Homo sapiens: one gene and its partners. The protein of the gene in region 3 interacts with the protein of the main gene of each other region in a pairwise test. Each region holds a gene or a part of one and is shown on either strand. Other genes may lie near its edges.

Region 1 (5,336 bases), on a different chromosome or scaffold from region 3:
TACCTTGAATCCAGCATGTTAAGATGGAGGCAGGGTTATGTCAGGAAGCCAGCCCATAGCCAATTAGAGCTTGTGACGCTGGCTGCTTAATGCGCCGATTAAAAGTCCCTTGATGGGAGAGGGGCCCATCAGTTTCAGGAACCTCCACAATACCAAAATGTGGATGCTCTAGCCCCCTTGTATGAAACGTGTATTTGCACGTGGTCTAAGCACATCTCATACACTTGAGTTGTCTAGGTTACCCAATATTTAATCCAAGGTAGAAGCTAGGTAAATGGTATGCTGCATTATGTATGGGGAATAAAGTTCAGTACAGACACTACCATCTTTAAATATATTCAGTTTGCAGTTACTAGATCTGTGTGTGCTATATTTAAGGGTTTTTAGAGTTTAAACTTCAGGCCAGGCATGGCGGTCCATAATCTGAGCAGCTCGGGAGGCTGAGGCAGTCCAGGAGTTTGAGGCTGGATCTTTTATTGGGGCCACTGCACTTCAGCATGGGTAACAAGAGTCACCATGATTACCGATTCTGCTCTCCACTGTCTTTTATTTTAGAGGTTTGAAAAGAATGCTATCTGATAAGCAGGCACTCTTTTGAGTGTACTTAGTAGGATTTCCTACTGAAATGTTTTATGTGTGTTCTTAAATTATAATTATCAAAAGCTTAAGACATTTGAAATACTCCCTTGTAAAAAGCAACAGACTAAAATGATCATTTGAACACCATGAGTCACTGAAGGGGCAATTTTATCTAGAAGCATACTAGAAGCATTTCTGGCAAAATAACAGGTCTTGGGAAACTTTATTATAAAAATCCAACGGTATATATAAACTGCATTTCTCTAGCCCAAGATACTTATGTGATACTCTACACTGTAGCTCCTATGGCAGAAATAATATCTGAGAAACTTCATTTTGAAAATTTGGACATATTAAGCATTATAGTACCCGTCAAAATCTTGATGTTCCCCAAACTTGAGTCATCTAGGTGAGGTCATTGCTGTCTTCAAAAAATTCAGCAATCTCCTGTTTACTGTTCTAGTGAACTTAAGTGAGGTTTTCATTTCAAATGCTATTATTTCTAGAATTTACCTTACCCTGGTTTATTTTCAAATTCACCTGTTTTTTTTCCCTTAATCGCTTTTGCCCATTTTAAACAGATGGTTTCACTGTTGCTGACTCTTTCCCTACTGTTTATATGGCTTACAGTGTTCTGGTGAGATCTCAGTATTCTAAGATGGTGAGGCCATCCCTTCAGGCTGGCTTTACTGCCAGAGATTTTATGGATTTAATATACACACAAGGAGTTACGTTTTTGCAAGTAGCCCATTCTGTCTCTGGTTACATGAGGAAGGCCTGTGGCTCAAACTACCAGTGACCGTAGGTCTTCAGTGCATTCTATATCACATAGTATTCTGTGTGTTAAGTATTGGGGTAGGGGGGTGGATTTGCCTTACTATGGATTTGGCATACTATGTTGACCTCAATTTGGCTTGAGTCTGAGCAGTTTGCTATGCTGCCTTATTTGTTATTCACCTATATTCCTGAATGTGGATATTTTGGAAGGAAAGTAAGGTAAATTTGGTTCAGATTCTGTATAAAAGGGAAAAGTTAATTTTTAATACAAATACAAAATTTATTTCCATAGAAAGCAAAATTTATAAGTTAAATATAAAGATTAAAATAGTGTTTGAAAAGCTCACTATAGTGCTAACAAACTAAATGAAAATAAGGCTATTTTGCATTTAAAACTGAAATACCTCTTAAAATAATTTGATCCCCAGTGTTTGCTCTTTTTGAAGTAACCAACTTACTCTTAAAAAGGATGGCTGCCAAGATGGAAAGTCTTACTGGGTTTTCATGTTAACCTATTCTTTGGACATAACTATGAATTTTGTATACAATGCACTTCATGAAAAGTTGTGGCTCCCCCAGATTGCCCACAAGTGTGATCTTGAAGTCCTAAACATTTGTCCATGTAAGCTTCAAAACAGCGTTAACTGAGTTATTCAAGTAGCAGTACTTAAAGATACAATTCTTGAAGCAGTTTCAATGGTTTCTGATCCAAATAATCAGTTTCTGAACATTACTACTTCACATAATAGAGTCCATCTTCAGTTTCTTCTCACTTTCTCTTTCCCTTTTGGGTTTCCTTTTTGTGGCCTGAGGCCACCAGTTCTTTGGGTACTATCAAGATACTTCCATCATGGGTACACTGGAGAGCATAGTGGTTGGGATTGACTGGCCTACCTTGGTCATCTCTTAATCTACTAAAAATATCATGATAAAGGTCATGCAGTTTCTGTTTCATTATGTTAATAGCTTTGTTACATTGTGCTTGCTCTCTCTTAAGAGTTTCCTTCTTTGCTTGCAAGTTACATACATCATCTTCTAAATTCAAAATTATGTCCAATTTGCGTTTACGACAGTTCTGCGCAGCAACTTTATTTTTCCCTCTTCGTCTGATGTCACGGATAAGTGAGACTTGTAGGTCTGTCAGATAATATCTACTTAACATGCTATTGAAAGAATCAACAGGCATGCCGACAATTTCATCTACAGAAAAAGGGATATGCAAAGCTTTAGCACGCTGTTCATCACGGCTCAAGTTTCTATCTGTGTCTTCAAGGTATCTACTCCTTATCTTCTGTGACTTCCCAGGCCACGGAAAAGGTTCAGAAGTAGATTCTGGTGCAGTTGGCTGTAAGTGGTAAGTGTGGTTATGAAATACGTGTTGAAATGTAAGATCTCCATGGAAATCAGAATCACTTTGATCCAAGTGACAAAGCTTACTGGGTTCTGGGTAGTAGCCACCTACAGCACCTTCTAAGTCATGATGGGAACTAGATTCATGGTCAGTGCAATAACCTATAGCACCTTCATCACACACAGAGTGAGAGGAATTAGACTTGATGACAGAGGTATTATTGTGACTTGAATCTAAAGAAAGGCCAGAATCAGAATCTGGTTCATCAAAAAGCTGAGAAACATCGATTGGATCAAAGTTGTCTTCTGTGGCCAATGACATTAAGTTTATCTCATCAAATATATTTATGTCAAGGTCATACAGTAGGTCTTGGCTTGTTAGATTCCTCATATGATTGTCAACCGGTGAAAGAAATCCTGTCAAATTAGTTCCAGGAAGGGTTTGCTCAGGATTGGTGGTATGAGAATTTAACTGCAGAAATGGTTCTTGTGACTGTGAAGTCCTTGCTGTTGGATCTCTTCTAAATGTATTGTTGGGACAAAGCAAGATGGCCTCATGAAGATTCACATCCTGACTTATAGCCTGGCTGAAGTTTACATGATAATGTGCTGAAGAATTCATGCCATCACTGATACTGCCTGGAAGAGGAATATCTCCCAATGAGATGCCCTGAAAAACGAAGGAGAAACACTTCAAACATGAATAGCCCTATTTCTGAAGCAGTTCTATTACCTAACAACTTTCTTTCCCCTCTTTTGTCAATTCCTCTACATTTAATAGAGATAGATGCTGTTGGCAGTAACTTCCTAGTTAAATACAGGCAATACAATACGAGATGTGAGTCCAAATCAGAATACCTGGAATTCTGAGTAACCTAGAAATTAAGATGGATTAGTATAAAAGCTGACTGGATTTTCTTAAAAAGTCTAATGTTACAATCTTGTAATTTGCTACTTTATAATAAGATGCAACTCATCCTAGCGGTTGGTAATCACATTGTGGAGGGTCAGGGATAATAAACTACAGTGAAGTAGTCTGGAGGAGAGAGGCTGTTTAAATGCCTCTAAGCGCTAAAACTACAAGGCTATTGTGAATATTGCTGCAATAAACATGGGGGTGCAGGTGTCCCTTTGATACACTGATTTCCTTTCCTTTGGATAAATACCTGATAATTCTTTTAGTTTTTTGAGAAATCTCCACGCTGTTTTCCATGACTAGTCTAAATTTGATTATACCTTTGGGATTATTTGGAAAGAGGAATGCTATACATATTTGGTTAATTCTAAGCTGAAGTGCTTCTGTAAAAATAAGCATTACTTTAAACTGCTGTGTCATCCAAGTAAAGGAGTTGTATTTGTTCACCAAAAGGTCAGTGCAGATATGTTCCTGCGAGGATAAAAGCCAAAGTTCCAATTACCTCCAGTGAATTTTCAGGCTGTGATGAAAGCAACTGGAATAAGTCTTCCAGAGAGAAAGAAGTATCTGTCCCATTCAGATGTCTCTGTAGAGAAACACAAAAAGTGCATCTTTCACATAAAAGACTGAACTGGTTGGGGCTTTAGGCTTTATCTTTAAAGGATCACCAGGTATTATTTCCACACTGGATTTTTATGCTATTATGTTCCTTGGTTGGAAGTTCTACTTTTTATTATATTTTGAGACGGATCTCACTCTGGCCCAGAATGGAGTGCAGTGGTGCAATCTCGGCTCACTACACCCTCTGCCTCCCAGGTTCAAAGGATTCTCCTGCCTTAGCCTCCGGAGTAGCTGGGATTACAGCTGTGCACCACCACGTCTGGCTAATTTTTGTATTTTTAGTAGAGACAGGGTTTCACCATGTTGGCCAAGTTGGTCTCGAACTTTTGACCGCAAGTGATCCACCCACCTAGGCCTCCCAAAGTGCTGGGATTACAGACGTGAGCCACTGCAGCTGACCTATTTCTCTGATTATGGTACTCAGTATTTCAACATGCATACTTAAAAGTCCAAAGCTAATCAGTATTTCTATTCCTACCATAAACAACTTCCATGTAATTTTTGGCTAATTGTTAGTTTCAGCTTATTTTGCCCCTCCATAGCCAGCCCTCCCAGTTGGTTACACAATTATATAATTTTGGCCAGGTGTGGTGGCTCACGCTTGTAATCCCAGCACTTTGGGAGGCCAAAGCAGGCAGATCGCCTGAGCCCAGGAGTTGGAGACCAGCTTGGGCAACACAACAAGACCGTTTCTACAAATTAAATTAGCTGGGTGTGGTGGTGTGCACCTGTGGTCCCAGCTACTCCGGGATGGTGAGGCAGGAGGACTGCCTGAGTCCAGGAGGTTGAGGCTGCAGTGAGTCGTGACAGCGCTGCCACACTCCAGCCTAACAGAATGAGATCTCGTCTCAAAAAATATTTTTACAGTCAATACTTATTTACATTTACTCCAATTTGTTTTTTTAAAACCAATTTATCGATGCTTCATCTCACTCCTGGCCTTTATGCTTTAGCCTCTTTCTAGTTGAAAGAACTCTTCAGAGTTCTTTTTAGAGAGGACCTGAGCAGTAAACCCAGTTTTTGTTACATGGAATTATTTTGAGACAGTCTTGTCCTGTCGCCCAGGCTGGAGAGCACTGGTGAGATCTCAGCT
Region 2 (8,317 bases), on a different chromosome or scaffold from region 3:
TGGTAATTTTAACGGGCTTTGCAACTGTTATTCTGAGCATCACCTCTCACAGTACAGGGGTGTAGAAGGCACATGGCACATGAGATTTAACTGAATGGTAAATACTAACCACCCTCACCGCCGCCACCCGCCCCCAGCACTAGTAGGAGGTTGATATTCTGAATAAATGCCACTTCCCAAGGGATTTACTGAATATGTCGTCTTATTAATCTTAAGAGAACATAAGCTTGGCAAAAAACAAACAAAAAAAAACAGACTTCAAGGAGTAACAGTACAAACTAATTTTTACATATGCTATACATATTACACTCCAATGTGTAGATTATCTTCAAGTATTTCCACTGCACCCTTTTACACATCACTGCACTTCAGATCACATACATTAAACCAACCGCTGGGCTTGTCTCCAAATTCAAAATACAGGTTATCAAATGAAATTCTGTATTTTTTGTATTTCCATCCCCAGTATCAACAATGTAACAAGAAATTTACACTCAAGCTTCTAAAGTAAAACATACAGACAATAGAACTACCTATAAAATAAAACTTAAATGGAATATTAACAGTCTGAAAGAACTCTTAGGAGGAAACCGTAAGTTAAAAGAAAAAGCATTCCGGTTGTTGAAAGAATGTTACTGACAGTGGTTAACAGGCTATGTTCCCCCAGCAACAAAGGGGTGGAGGACATGCACGCGCATTATATAATATGAATACACGATTGTTAGTCTGCATCTTTAAGCTTAATGTCTTTCTTATATTAAAGTTTTTAAAAGTTTTAATATATTCCTTCCAAATGAACCTCCTTGCACCCCACCTTGGAGGCCCTAATACTTACAAAATTCATGATTTCTAATCTCCTCTAGTCCCAGACTTAAAGGAACAAAATAAATCGTTTTTCCTAATACAGAATATTTTAAATGAACTACCATTAATAGGAATCATCATTTTTTTCACCAAAGGGCCAAATTCCCAGCTCTACATTTCCCATTCCTAAACTTTGTTTGCAATGAGGACTCATATAAATATTTGGGTTGTGTGCTCCTTTTTAAAGCAAGAAGCAATGACACCAGGTGTAAAGGCAGTGGTGTCATATAATCAAGACAATGAGACAGGTATTTACGGTTGGCTATTTATTAAACAGCTCTTTCGAGACTTAACCCAATGAGACCTATTAATTCCACCCATATGGTGCTTACCCTCCTCTGACTCCTGAAACTTCTTGTGTATGCATGAAAAGCCAAGGGCCATGAGAAACAGAGCAAGTCCCTTCTGTGTACTCATAACCAAATTTTTATGACGCACAAATTAAGCTCACTGCTTGAAACTTATAGACCACGTAACAGAAACCACAAAAAGGAAACTAAGTCCAGTAAGAGTAGTAAATATTTTTGTTACAATATTTTTTATTGGGTTACCCCTAGCTGCAAATTTCTTCCCCAGTTTTAGCTCTCTCCAGCGCAAATTTATTCTCAGACAGCAGGTCACGAGGCTCCGTCTTTAAACCCGCCTCAGTGCTATTGGCCACTGCCTAAGAGTGCTCTTCCACTTCACCCACTGATAACCTGTATCAAAACAACCCCAGCTGGGTCCCCTTCAGCCTTCTGAAGCAACCTCTCTAGAGCGCTCTTTGGCCTTTTATAGTGGAGGCATGTGATGAGAGTATTTGCACCAGCTGTTTCTAATTACCTCTCAAGCTGGGGCGAATGACTCAGCAACCCAACTTTTTAGAGAGTCATCCTACCTTGTTAACCAACCAACATACCGAACAACAGTAAACCACTTGACAGAAACATAGGTTAAACAACAATACAAGAATCACTACGCCAAAGTCACCCTACTCCAAGCTGACTCACCGGGAGCCTTTCTTCCCTAAGCTTCTTCAAGATGTCCAAAGGCAGAAGTGGCAAGTGCCTTCAAGCCCAGCCCAGCCCTTGCACCACTACCCAAAGACCAGGAAGAAGCAAGCCGACCTCTTCCCATTTCTCTGCTTGACTATGTGAAGCGCTCAAGTGCTCTGCCACTAACACATCTGGGATTTCCACCCTTTATCCTTCTGAACTGCATTCAATGCAGACCCTCTGATGTAAAGGGTGTTCAAATACATGATCAAATTCCCATAGCATCATCCATGGGTAACAGTCCCTACCCCTACACAATTCTCCAAAAAGCAAAGCATCCTACAAAACATTCTTTGTTCCTCCAAGCATGACATTGTAGCTCGTTTTCCTCATACACGTTCTTTCACAATTACTACTACACTTTACCTGGAATCAGCACAAGTTTAACGCAGAAGCCTCACTCCATAAAAGCATTCCGCACAATTCTACTCAATGACATGAAACTGCCGTGTAAGAATGAGAAAGCAACGGCACTCGTGTTACATTACACGAGCACAAAGCTGGTGTCTCCAGAATCAACGCCCACTCTCACCATATTGTGCGAGGCTTAATTACAACGCGTGGGCAAAACTCCAACAAAGGGAGTCCTGGGCTCTCCGGTCCCCAAAACCAGTCTTCGCTAAATCCAGCTCAGCACGGTGGCCTTCTCTCCCCAGCCACAAACTCGGCTTTTCTTACGCGATTCCACGCGCGACAGCCACCGGGCTGAGTAGACGCGAGGCTGGGCATGCGGTGGGAGGCGGCGGAGGACAATACGGGGCCCCAGCCGCGAGGGCGGTGCTGATGTGTCACAGCCCGGGCGGGCCGCGGGCGAGGGGCCGGGCTGGCGCCCGAGGGCAGGGAGGGGGGTGGGGCAGGGACCCCGCGGCCCCCAGCCCCCGCCCGCCCCGGGTAAAGTACGGCGCGCGCGGGTAAACAACAGCTCCGGCAGTGCAGGGGGTTCGGCCGCCGACGGGACGCCCCTTCCGGCGTCGCGGCCACTTCCAGGATCCCGGCCGCCGGCGCCCCCCGCGGGCCCCGATACGTGCCCCCCGCGCCCCGCCCAGCCCAGAAAGAGCCGCCCCCGGCCCGCCCGCGCCTTCACTGGACCTGTCCGCCGGCCTCCCCTCACAGGCCCGCGGCCCTGACCGCGCCAACCCTCCCGGAGAAGGGCCGGCGGGACGGCCGAGCCACTCACCAGAGCTGAGGCGCGGCGCGGCCCGACTGACTGAAGCGAGAGCGCCCGGCGGGCGGCGAGGGCAGCGGTCAGGTGACTCACTCCTTCCGCGCGGCCAGCCGCCCCCTCCCTTCTGCGCCGCTCTGCTGCCGCCACCTCGCGGCGCCAAAACCCCGCCCGCCCGCTGAAGGCCCCGCCCCCGGCGCCGAAGCCCCGCCCTGCCGCCCTCGAAGCCTCTGTCAGCGAACGAGCGCGCGCAATAGCGCGGGGCAGGGGTCGCCGCGGCCGGAAGCCCACGCGGGGGGTTGCAGGGACGGGTCGTAAGGGGCGGGGCGGGCCTCGAGGAGGCGGCGGTGGGGTCCCCGGACCTCCGCGCGTGGCACAGCCCGCATCCTGAACTGACTCCCACTCGAGGACCACCTCTCCTCTCCCTTCTGAGGGCGGAACGGAAAGGCCAAGCGCCTCCTCGCCTCGGGAGCTGCAGGACGCCCTAATTCAGCCGAGTCGCCGCGTGCCCGGGTGCCCGCGAACAGCAGGAGAGAGGACGGGCGCTGGCCCCACAGGGGTCGCTTTACCCCTTGAAGAGCTCCTCGCTGCCTGCCCTGGGGGTGGTGGGCGTCCAGGTTCACAGGGTACTTGAGCTTGCTGGGGTGGGGGTGTGTATGAAGTGCGTCCAGGGTTTTGTGGAGCGCGTCTAGCAGTTGCTCTACTTCTTACTGACAGTGAAACAAGGGCGCCCACGACAGGTGTTCCCTTTTCGCTGTCGCTGCCAGGAAGCTTCCAGCCAGGTTCAGCGCCCAGTGGTGTCAGCCGGCCCATCTCGAGCCTTGGTTCCGCTGTCATCTTCTGGTGCTTATTCTGGTGTTTATCCAACTGTCCGTTTTGAAATTATGTTCCCAAGCCATTTAACACCTCTGGAGAACCAAAGCACTGGCTGTCAGCGGAGCGGGATGCACGCGCAGCGGAGGGGACTGGGCACGCCAACCCCACGAGGGTTCCTGCGGAGATGACACGGACCTTGAGGTCTGAAGCCAAAGGACGATTTGTGTGAAGGGATTTTATTGTTAGCTTTGGAGCCAGCAACAAGAACACAGCCCTGGAGTTCCCGGGGCAAAAAGGATACCAAGATAATAATTCAGGTATTACGACTAACATGACTGCATTTGCACCCACAGGCTGTGGGACTTGGGGACGTTTGAGCTACATCCAAAATACATGAGAAAATCACACAAGTGAAATTGGATGAGAGTGCGAGGGGTGAAGTGATACATTATGACCTAGAATTAGGGGAGGCTTCCTGGAGCAGGTGACATTTGCATTGGGTCTTGATTGGGAAGAGTGGAACCCAGCAGTCTAGATAGGGTCCAGAGGTAGGAGGTACCTCGCATCCCAGGCTGCCTCAGTTCATGGTGAGAGTGCAGATATTTAGTGAAACAGGAGGAAAGGACACTTGGAAATACACCATGAAAGAAGGATTGAAGTTCTTGCAGACACATGGGAGTGTCCGAGGCTTTATTCTCCTTCCACCTTGAGCCAGTGGAATTGCAGTGTCTTTTTTCTACACCTATGCAGTTTTTTCTACACCTGTGCAGTTTTTTCTAGGGGAAGATCAGACCCTCCTCTTTGGGAGGAACTCTTGCTTCTTTAGATAATAGCAGTGACATTTTCTAGCCTGAAAATTATGATGTATGCCCTGATAGGTTTAATTATTTGAGAAGTTCTCACAAAGGTATACAGATGTGCTAAGAGTATCAAGTCAAGTGAGTGACTCTCAAGCTTCATTATGGGGAAGAATATTTGGTTTGCTTGTTAAAATGCAGATTCCGGCCGGGAGCAGTGGCTCATGCCTGTAATCCCAGCACTTTCAAAGGCCAAGGCGGGCGGATCACGAGGTCAGGAGATCGACATGGTGAAACCCCGTTTCTACTAAACCCCAACATGGTGAAACCCCGTTTCTACTAAAATACAAAAAATTAGCCAGGCATGATGGTGTGCGCCTGTAGTCCCAGCCGCTCAGGAGGCTGACACAGGGGAATCGCTTGAACCTGGGCGGTGGAGGTTGCAGTGAGCTGAGATCGCGCCACTGCACTCCAGCCTGGCGACAGAGCAAAACTCTATCTCAAAAAAAAAAAAAAAAAAAAAAATGCAGATTCCTGGGTCCCACCCCCAAAAGATGCTAATTTTGTAGATCTGAGTAGGACCTAAGGGTCTGCATTTTTAATACTGAAGCATGTGGTCTTCAAGCTTATGGCATGTAGTAGGGACAGGACGAAAAATGAAACTGGAGAATGAAATGAAACCGAGTCAGTATGAGAAGGGCCTCATGCACAGCACCTGGAGTTTGGACTTCATCCCGTGGTCTGCAATAAGTGAGTAGAGGTTTCTAAGTCATGTGGTTATTTTTAAAAGCTAATTCTAGTATTGAGAAGGAATGGGAGTGGAAACAGATAGTAGGTTGAATGAAGGAATGAATGCAGTAAAATGCTCAGTGAAAGATGTGGCACTTTTTGTTTTCAGTATTCTCTTGCTTTGAACCAAAACCACTTAGAATGTATTTCTTTTAAAACCTGTATGTCAGTGTAAATATTCACAAACAACTGTATGTTCTGACCTATGTCTTCTGGACTTCCAGAGTTAGCATTAACATTATTAGCTGCCAGGCCAACAAAACCTTGAGTAATCCTGCAATACTCGGAATCAAGAAAAGTGGCTACATCATGGTCAACTTTGAAGAACATCAGCCTCAAGATCTTTTATACTAACTCATATGTTTATTAAAATCTATTACTAAAACAGATTTTTAAAAATTATCTTGAGGTTATAATGAGACATAGTGCTTCTACCTAATTCCTATTGGGAAAAAAAAATGTTGAGATTTGGGGACCAAGAAAAAAAATTCTGATCGCTTTTTTTTTTTTTTTTTTTGAGATGGTGTCTCTCTCTGTCACGCAGGCTTGGAGTGCAGTGGCATGATTTTGTCTCACTGCAACCTCTGCCTCCCGGGTTCAAGTGATTCTCCTGCCCCAGCCTCCTGAGTAGCTGGAATTTCAGGCACCCACCACCAAGCCCAGCTAATTTTTGTATTTTTAGTAGAGACAAGGTTTCACCATGTTGGCCAGGCTGATCTCAAACTCCTGACCTCAAATGATCCACCTGCCTTGGCCTCCCAGAGTGCTGGGACTACAGGCATGAGCCACCGCTCCCAGCTGATTGCTTTCAATTAGTATTGATAATAGTTTGAAACTGGGACAAGTAGCCTAGTCTTGGCAGTCTTTCTGCTCCTTAGCTCAGCTAGGTCCAAGTTCTTGTCTCACAACCAGGAAAAACTAGGCACACAGACACCGGAAAGTGAGTGGAGTGGAATTGATTAAGCAAAAGGAAAGCTCTCAGCAAAGAGCGAATGCTGGGAGCAGTTCCCCTACCCGAAAGTGGGAAAATCCCCTCTCATGTGGCTGAGCCTGGGGCTTTTATGCACTCAGAATGGGGAGTGCATGCTGATTGGTTTGTGAGTTTGCAAAAAAAGGTTAAAGCAAAGACACCACTCAAAGGCAGGCACGACAGTGTAGAAAACCAATTAGAAAGGGTAAGTATACGTAAAATAGGTGAAGGGTGGAGATCAGAGGAAAGCGTGCCAAACAGGAAGACAAGTTCTCAATCTAGTCTGAAAATTTAACTTGTAGTTTGGCTTTCAGGCTTTAAACTGTCTTCAGCTTGGAGGTGGGGTTTCACCGGGGACCTGCCTCTATCTGCCTAGGCGTTTGACTGTCTTCTGTTGCTGTCACTAGTAGCACAATATAAAGATTTTGTGCTACTGTTTCACAGTGATTTGCAATTAGTGCTTTTTTTTGTCATGTAGTTTTGTTTTTAGTGCATTATTCTTTAGGAGAATTTATCCGTGAAGCTTGGGTATCACAGCTTACTGCTATGTCCTTGATTTATACTTCTCATTGACTGTGAGAAGTGATGGCTAGTTTTCCTGCTGTGAGCAGGTTTGGTGATATACAATACCATTCGCAAGATGTTATATATGTGCATTGTCACATTTCTTTCAAAAATGATATTTCCAATTTTTCCAAACATTCATATCTTCTTTCTGGCCATCATACTGATTTTATTACCAAAATAAAATCTTATCATTAACTCTGAAAACAATTTAAATAACTATAAGCCATAGTTAGGGAATGATTTTTAATAAAACCTAGATACAAACACCATCATTTTCTCCTCTAATAGCAGGTTGTCTTGCCTGACTCTCAAAAATGAGGGAGCTAAATCATACAGATAGGTGACATGTTCATGGCTATAAGGAACACCATAGCATAATATTTGGACAGTAAGACATAATACATATCCTGAAAAAACTTTGATGTGTAGTCAGTGTAACCCTTGTCCCCTGTCCTCCTCCCTAACCTCAGGAAAGATCCACACTTCCACATTTATTCCCTACCCACCTTTGGTTTTGAATCCTCATTTCCACAGATGCAGCATGACATCTGTAACCCCTACAAATCTGCATACCCCTCCAGCCTTCCCAGAACTTCATTCCCTCCATCTTCATTGCCTTAGCTCCTTTTGTCTTTAAGTATTCACTCACTAAGTCAAGAAAATATTGGAGGGGGGGTGGGGCAAAACAACTAGGCTTTAAAGGTGGGGGATTACCCAGATCAACACAAGTCTCCCACTTGAACAACTGCTCTTTGACACCTGTACCCTGAGATGTGACTATGGATTAAAGTCATAGCACCCCTGCCTCCAGGTTGGAAAGTTTTATGGAAAATGAACATATTTTATTAGAAGACAATGAGAACTTCCTGGAGCAGATGAGTAAACACACCCTCATGTTTACCTGATAACTGAAATCAAAGATGAGGTGTAGCCTCTGGTTTGAAATGTTACAAAGTGTAAAATTAAGATAAAGGCAGAAAAATGAAAAGGAAATAGCCAGTTTTGAAGCAGAAGAACTCAGTGGGACAGGGGCCAAATCAGTGAAAGAGGTGCTGCTCAGATACCAGATTTAATGACAACCAAAGTGGCCCAAATATCCAAAAAAAATTGCGCTTCTGAAAACCAGTAGGAGGTTGCAGTGGACTAAAGATGGCCACAAAATTTTTATCGTTTTCCCCGTCAAGAATGGGAGTTTATTTTTCATCATCTTGAATCTGGCCCTGTGACTGCATCACCAAGAAGACACTGCAGAAGTGATGCTCTGCCAGTTCTGGTTCTAGTCTTTTAGAAGACTGTTAGCCTCTACTTCCTCTTTCTT
Region 3 (7,896 bases):
AAAAAGGCCTGGGAACCCCAGAGAAACAGGAAGCCAGGGCAGGGGCTGGGGGAATCTTGAAGCAGTCTCCCAAAAGCGAGCAAATCCTTCAGGACTCAGGCAACTTCCTCCCTCACACACACAGGCATGCACTGCCCGCTTGTCCCTTTGGGAAACATTCAGGGATAGTAGAATTTGCTGTCTGTTCATTCATCTGTTAGCATACGATCCTGGGAGAGAGTGGACAGGAATACGGTTGAGGCCTGAGGACCCTACTGTGTTGGCTTGCGGGGAGGCTGGCATTGCAGGGTTTTGAAATGGGCCAAGCACGGACAGGCTCGTGGGTTTGTGTCAGTAGTGATTCCTCTGACAGCTCTTGGGGGAGGATCAATGATGGGGATTGGAGACGGAGGGCAAGGCAAGAGGCTGGTGAGCAGGCGGTTGTGGTCATGGTCCAGATGAAGGAGGAAGTGGTCTGTGGCTGTGCAGGTGGAGAAGAGGGCTAGTCTGATAGTCTGATAGTTTGTGTCTCATGCCCCCACCTCCAGGAAGCCTTCACCGCTTTCCTTTCCCTACCTCCATTCTGCTGGTGGTCTTGGAGCTCTGGGCCAGAATCTGAAACTCTAAACTCAGAGACAGTCATTGTTGGAAGGTACCTTAGGCTCGGAGGACGTTTGGCATAGTGGGAAAACTGAGGCCCAGAGAGAGGGAGTGCCGTACCTGAGGCCACACAGCGAGTGTGAGAGGGTACCTGAACTGGGGCTGGAACCCCAGGCCGTTGCTTCTCTGTGGTGCTTGGTTCTTCCAGCCTTGCTCCCCTTCCAGCAGGGAGGAGGCTCCAGCAGTGCTGACTGCCAAGAGCTAGGAAAACACATTTTTTCCCTGTCCTCACAGAGCGAGCAGAATGGCTCAGCAGCCAGAAAGGAGCCCATGCCAGCGGGTGGGCCTTCTACAGGATGTCTCTGGAGTGGACTGGTGGGGCCAGGGAGGGGGACGTTGGAGGGTTGTGGCTGCTGACTGGACAAGGCAGTTGTCAGTCCCTCAAGAGTCACCTCTCTCCTTATGCCTCCAGAAGACGTCATGAACCTGCAGACCCTGGAGGTCAGCTCTGCTGGCTTCCAAGGGAAGAAGCCAGGGAGAGGTGGTGGTGGCCGACATAGAAGACAGAGGACCCCTGGGTTCCAGTCCGCCACGGCTACCAAACAGTGGCTTGGTTGCCTCAGGTGCTGAACAGGGGATCGGATCAGCTACTATTTCTCAGGCCCAGGGTCAGCCAGCCTGGCAAAGGCAGAGGACCCAGGCCCCTTGGCAGCCCCTGGCCTGGGGTTGGCAGCGGAAAGCCTGAGGTTACCAGAAAGTTCCCCCTTCTTGTGACTTTCCCCCTGTGATTGCCTGACTGCTGAGCTAGGACATTCCTGGGCAAACGTGGGTGCCTCAGCTGACATCCAGGATGCGGTTGAGGGGGCTGAGGCTCGGACAGGAGGGCATGGAGGAGTGGGGGAAGAGCAGGTTCAAAACCTTCCTAGCACCTGAGGGTATTTACAATCACAGCCAGCTTCCGCTATTATCAAGGATAGGGAATGGCTGATGGTTCCATCTCTCAGGCCTGGTCTGGAGGCAGTGTTGAGGATTCTAGGCTGTGTCCAAGCTCAGGAGAAAACAGTTCTGTGCTGAGAAAGACTCAGGGGCTGTGGCCTGCCTCACTGGGAATTGGTGCTGTGTGTGGTTAGTGATGTCTCTGTTGCTTGTGGATAGTGGGATGATGGTGAGATGAGGTGATCTTTCTTGCCTATGCCTCCTTTTTTTTTTTTTTTTTTTTTGATGGAGTCTCGCTCTGTTGCCCAGGCTGGAGTCCAGTGGCTTGTTCTCAGCTCACTGAAACCTCCACCTCCCGGGTTCATGCAATTCTTCTGCCTCAGCCTCCCAAGTAGCTGGGACTATAGGTGTGCGCCACCACACCTGGCTAATTTTTGCATTTTTTTTTTTCTTTAGTAGAGACAGGATTTCACCATGTTGGCCAGGCCGTTCTTGAACTCCTGGCCTCAGATGATCTGCCCACCTTGGCCTCCCAAAGTGCTGGGATTACAGGCGTGAGCCACCACGCCTGGCCTTGCCTAAGCCTTTATATTTTACACACCAAGATTATTGTGATTATTCCCACTTAGCAAGGAATCCAGGACTCAGGAAAAATGACTTGTGCATGAGGCCAGACTGTGCCTCTGAGGTTCTGTATCAGCCGCAACACCCAAAGGGCAGTTGATTAACTTGCGTGGGGAGAGGCTTCCCTTCTCCCATTGGGTCTTTCTGTGTAGCTCAGGTGGCCAAGCATCACTGCACGTGCCAGCTCCCCAAACGGCTGGTAAGGGGGCCTGGATACTTAACTGTAACTTGCAAATCGTATCCCTAGCGGGCCCAACACAAATCCTGGAGAATCAGAGCTGGGGTGGCCTTGGAAACTGGCAAGTCCAGCTTCATCTTCACAGGGCTAGGGAAACAGGGCCCAGGGAGGTCGCCCTGCCAGGGCCACACAGGGAGGAGGTGTGTGGCTCCATGTGGCCTCAGGCCTGAATTCTATTATTATTATTATTATTATTTTTGAGATGGAGTCTTGCTCTGTCACCCAGGCTGGAGTGCAGTCGCGTAATCTCGGCTCACTGCAACCTCTGCCTCCCAGGTTCTAAGCGATTCTCCTGCCTCAGCCTCCTGAGTAGTTGGGACTACAGGTGTGTGCCACCAGGCCCAGCTAATTTTTTGTATTTTTAGTACAGACAGGGTTTCACTGTGTTAGCCATGATGGTCTCAGTCTCCTGACCTCATGATCCGCCCACCTCGGCCTCCCAAAGTGCTGGGATTACAGGCATGAGCCACCTTGCTTGGCCATCTTTTTTTTTTTTTTTTTTTTTTTTTTTTTTTTTTTGAGACAGAGTCTCGCTCTGTCACCCAGGCTGGAGTGCAGTGGCGCGATCTCAGCTCACTGCAAGCTCCATCTCCGGGTTCACGCCATTCTCCTGCCTCAGCCTCCCCAGTAGCTGGGACTACAGGCGCCCACCACCACACCCGGCTAATTTTTTTTTTAAGAGGCGGGGTCTTGCTTTGTCACCCAGGGAGTGCAGTGGCGGGATCACAGCTCACTGCCGCCTTGAATTCCTGGGCTCAATGGTTCCTCCTGCCTCAGCCTCCTGAGTAGCTGGGGCTATAGGTGTGCACCACTGCACCCGGCTAATCTTTTTATTTTTTGGAGATGGAGTCTAGCCATCTTGCCCAGGTTGGTCTTGAACTCTCAGGCCTGAATTCTACCCCATGCTGGCTGTATGAGCCTGGACTACTCTATTGTCCTCTCTGGGCATTACCTCAGGGTTGGGCGAACCAGGGAGGTGACGGTGTGAAGGGACCAGGTTTCAGTCCTGGGCCTTTGCAGCTATTCATTCACACCTATTGTGTGACTTCAGGCAAGTGCTGCCCCTCTCTGGGTCTCTACCTCCCCTTGGGTAAAGGGAGGAGGCAGGACCTGATGGCCTCTAAGGGCCTTTCCTGCAGTTCCCTGTGTGACCCCAGCCAGCTGGGAGATGCTAAATCAGAGCGAGACCCCAGTGCTGGCTACAGGCCTGACCCCTCCTGGACAGACAGCAATTCTAACCTCCCAGCTGCTCACTGACCTCTACAGTGTATACCACTTGATTCCACCAAAACCCTGCGAGGCAGGTATTGTTCCGATCCTTTAGATGGGAAAGTGGAGACCCAGAGAGATGGAGTGGCTCACCCCAGGTCACACAGCCTGAGAAAACAGAGATGCGACTTAAACCCAAGCTTGACTCCCAATCCAGTGCTCCTTTCCCTGTTTCCCACACCCCACCTTTGGGCCCAAAGTCACGTGGATGGGATCCCCTCTGCTCTCTTCCCATTCGCCTAGCATCTGTACTGTCTCTGCCAACAGGCCCAAGGAAGCAGCTGGAGAGGAGGAAGAATTAGAGACAGGGCCAGGAGGTACTGAACTACGTTTCGGCTTGGAACCCGGCTTGGTGACAAGCTGGGTGATGGCGTCAGAGACTCTGACCATCCACCCTTCCCCAGTGCCTGCTCCCTGCCAGGTCTTGAGATGGGTGGCCTCAAGCACCCAGAGCTGACTCAGCCTCTCCCTGTCTGGTGGAGAGACAGCAAGGAAATACAACCCATTACACACAGGGGTGGGGGTCCCTAACAAGTCCTAGGGATCAGGGAGGGCTTCCTGGAGGAGGAGATGTCTGCACCCAGGGCCGAAGGATGAGTAGGAGTCTGCCAAACAAAGTAGAGGGGAGTGAGGGGAGAGAAATATCATGGGGTGGGAGGTGGCTCAGAGGCAAGAAAGCGCGGGTGGGAGGAAGTGAAAGAAATTCTGTGTGGCTGGAGCACAGAGTGGAGGTGGCAGTGGTGGGAAATGGGCGTGGGGCTGGACACACAGGGCCTGGGGTGCTGGGAGGGTGGGTCTGGACTCCATCCTTAGGATAGTAGGGAACCATGGAAGGTTTTTTTTTTGTTTGCTTGTTTGTTTTTGTGTTTGTTTTTGAGATGGAGTATCACTCTGTCGCCCAGGCTGGAGTGCAGTGTCGCGATCTCGGCTCACTGCATGCTTCACCTCCCGGGTTCACGCCATTCTCCTGCCTCAGCCTCCTGATAGCTGGGACTACAGGTGCCTGCCACCACACCCGGCTAATTTTTTGTATTTTTTAGTAGAGACGGGGTTTCACCATGTTAGCCAGGATGGTCTCAATCTCCTTACCTTGTGATCCGCCCGCCTCAGCCTCCTAAAGTGCTGGGATTATAGGCATGAGCCACCTTGCCCAGCCGAACCATGGAAGGCTTTAATCTGGCTGGTGGCATGGTCAGATTCGCGTGGTGCAAAGATTGTCCAGCTGCTGTGTGGGAATGAGCTGAGACCAGCAGGGAGGTGTGCTGGGACCTCCCCAGGTGTGTGTAGGGTGGTGAGGGTGACCACTTAAGAGGCCTGCATTGGGTTGGGCGTGGTGGCTCACACCTGTAATCCCGGCACTTCAGGAGGCCGAGGCAGGTGGATCACCTGAGGTTAGGAGTTCGAGACCAGCCTGACCAATATGGTGAAACTCTGTCTCTACTAAAAATACAAAAATTAGCTGGGCGTGGTGGTAGGCGCCTGTAGTCCCAGCTATTCAGGAGGCTGAGGCAGAGCTAATCGCTTGAACCCAGGAGGCGGAGGTTGCAGTGAGCTGAGATCCTGTCACTGCACTCCAGCCTGGGCGACAGAGCGAGACTCCATCTCAAAAAAAAAAAAAAAAAAAAAAGGGAAAAAAAAAAGGCCTGCATTGAAAGGTAGGATCGGTGAGGTTGACATGTAAACGTCTCCAGATAGTATCTGAAAGGTCAGGGTAGCCAGCAGATCTCATATGACTTTTCCAGGTAGGATGGGAGTGCACAGAGGCCCCCAAGGAGAGCTAGGTGGGCAGCCAGGGCCTGAGCCCCCTAGGATTTGGAGTGCTAGGCAGGGAAACTGAGGCCAGAGCCCAGGCTAAGCCGGCATGTTCAGCAGTGGGGGGTCGCAGCTCAGGGGTCACCCCATGAAGCCACTGGTCTTCACCGTGGATCCGCACAGGGGTCTAAAGCTGCCTGGGTCCTGACCTGGCACTCTGGGTCCACCCAGCTACCCCCAGCGAAACCTGGGTGACCCCTAAGACTCTCCTGCTTAAGGGCCACAGTGGCTGCCCCTGTCAGGGGATCTCTGCAAGCGCCAACTTCCTTCTGTCCCACTCCTTCCTTCCCTGTGAGCTGCCAGACCCCCTGACTGTGTGGGCTGGGAGGAGCTGGGGAGTTTCCTGAGAAGCCCTGGACTGTCCCCACCTTGGCCTGAGTCACACTGAGAACTCAGCAAGGATTCCTTGAGTATCTGCGAGGTGCCAGGCGCGGTTCTAGGCATGGGGGAGGCCGCGGTGAATCAGGTATAAGTTCTGCCCTCATGGAGCTGGCATTCTAATCGGGGGGTTGGGAGGGACAGACACTGAACAAATAACCACCATATATGTGAGTGATGACAATTACACATGGGGAAACCTGAGGTGGGGAAGGGACACAGGGAGTGTGTGTGTGTGTGTGTGTGTGTGTGTGTGTGTGTGTCCGTGTGTGTATCAGGGGTTGCAAATTCTAAACTGAGTGAACATGAGATTTGAAGAGACCTCAGGAGGTGATGGAGCAAACTTTGTGGATATCTAGGGAACAAGGATGCCAACAGAGGCCATGCGTCGTGGCTCATGCCTATAATCCCAACACTTTGGGAGGCGGAGGCAGGCGGATCGCTTGAGCCAAGGAGTTCAAGACCAGCCTGGGCAACATGATGAAACTCTGTCTGTACAAAAAGTACAAAAATTGGCCAGGTGTGGTGGCATGCACCTATAGTTCCAGCTACTAGGGAGGCTGAGGTAGGAGGACCACTTGAGCCTGGGAGTTTGAGGCTGCAATGAGCTGTGATCGTGTCACTGCACTCCAGCCTGTAACGGAGTGAGTGAGACCCTGTATAAAAAACAAAAACAAAAACAAAAACGCCAGCAGAGGGACCAGCCAGTGCAAAGGCCCTGGAGAGGAGCGTGCATCCTGTGTTGAGGAAGGGCGGGTGTGGCTGAGGCAGGGGAAACAAAAGGAAGCCAAGTAGGGCTGAGGTTGGAGAAGGGATGCTGGGGAGCACTTTCTTTTTTTTTTTTTTTTCAGACGGAGTCTCACTCTCGCCCAGGCTGGAGTGCAGTGGCACAATCTTGGCTCACTGCAACCTCCGCCTCCCGGGTTCAAGCGATTCTTTTGTCTCAGCCTCCCAAGTAGCTGGGACTACAGGCACGTGCCACCACGCCCGGCTAATTTTCGTATTTTTAGTAGAGACGGGGTTTCACCATGTTGGCCAGGCTGGTCTCGATCTCCTGACCTCATGATCCACCCGCCTTGGCCTCCCAAAGTGCTGGGATTACAGGCGTGAGCCACCGCGCCCGGCCACTGGGGATCACTTTCTGCAGCACTTTGTGGGCCATGGTGACAACTCTGGCTTTACTCCAGTGAGCCGTGGGAAGGTCCTGAGAGAGGTGTGACATGAGCTGACTTAACACAGCTACCTGTGTCACCCAGGGGGAAAGTGAGGCACAGAAAGAGTGGCTGACCTATCAGAACCACACAACTAGAGAGCGAGACCACCCCCAAAAGGCCCCAGGTGTGTCTGGCACCAAGGTCCATGTGCTTTCCATTTCTGCACCTTGTCCCTGGGAGACACCCCGGTCCTGCCAGAATGTGTCAGAGGCTGAGCCAACCCGTGAGGTCAACCCTGTAGACAGCTCAAGGAACCAGGACTTGGATCTGGCTTTTGCCCTCTGCTGTCCACAAAACTGGGTGATGCTCTTTCCGATACGGTACGTGTTTATAGGATGCTACAGCTCAGATCACAAAGCATCTTCCTTTGTTTTCTTTTTATTTATTTATTTTTTTTGAGATGGAGTCTCACTCTGTCACCCAGGCTCCCAGGCTGGAGTGCAGTGGCGCAATCTCGGCTCACTGTAACCTCCACCTCCCAGGTTTAAGCAATTCTCCTGCCTCAGCCTCTCAAATAGCTGGGACTACAGGCATGCACCACCACGCCTGGGCTAATTTTTGTGTTTTTGGTAGAGACAGGGTTTTGCCATGTTGGCCAGGCTGGTCTTGAACTCCTGAACTGAGGTGATCTGCCCGTCTCAGCCTCCTAAAGTGCTGGGATTACAGGCGTGAGCCACCGCGCCCAGCCTATCTTCCTTTATTTTCCTTGGCTTCTTATCACTGCCCCCTCCCCTTGGAGACAGATGAGAAAACTCAGGTTCTCATGGCGGAGAACCTGAGAGGATTGGCAAAGTAGATCCTATCAGCTAGAGACAGAGAGGACTGCTGCTTTAAAGGGGACTTTGG

Evidence for each region.
Region 1: the proteins of MAFF (region 3) and NFE2L3 interact in binary tests that used the Homo sapiens proteins (3 or more experiments, as listed by UniProt).
Region 2: the proteins of MAFF (region 3) and BACH1 interact in binary tests that used the Homo sapiens proteins (3 or more experiments, as listed by UniProt).

Annotation. Positions count from the first base shown.
Region 1 is NC_000007.14:26,182,573-26,187,908, reverse strand, and holds the end of NFE2L3 (nuclear factor erythroid 2-related factor 3), read right to left. Parts: intron 4,209-5,336; coding exon 4,125-4,208; intron 3,377-4,124; coding exon 2,126-3,376; 3' UTR 772-2,125; downstream 1-771. UniProt on the Homo sapiens protein: Activates erythroid-specific, globin gene expression.
Region 2 is NC_000021.9:29,293,712-29,302,028, reverse strand, and holds the start of BACH1 (transcription regulator protein BACH1), read right to left. Parts: upstream 3,108-8,317; 5' UTR 3,076-3,107; intron 2,655-3,075; exon of another isoform or gene 2,431-2,654; intron 1-2,430. UniProt on the Homo sapiens protein: Transcriptional regulator that acts as a repressor or activator, depending on the context. Binds to NF-E2 DNA binding sites. Plays important roles in coordinating transcription activation and repression by MAFK.
Region 3 is NC_000022.11:38,204,563-38,212,458, forward strand, and holds part of MAFF (transcription factor MafF), read left to right. Parts: intron 1-7,896. UniProt on the Homo sapiens protein: Since they lack a putative transactivation domain, the small Mafs behave as transcriptional repressors when they dimerize among themselves.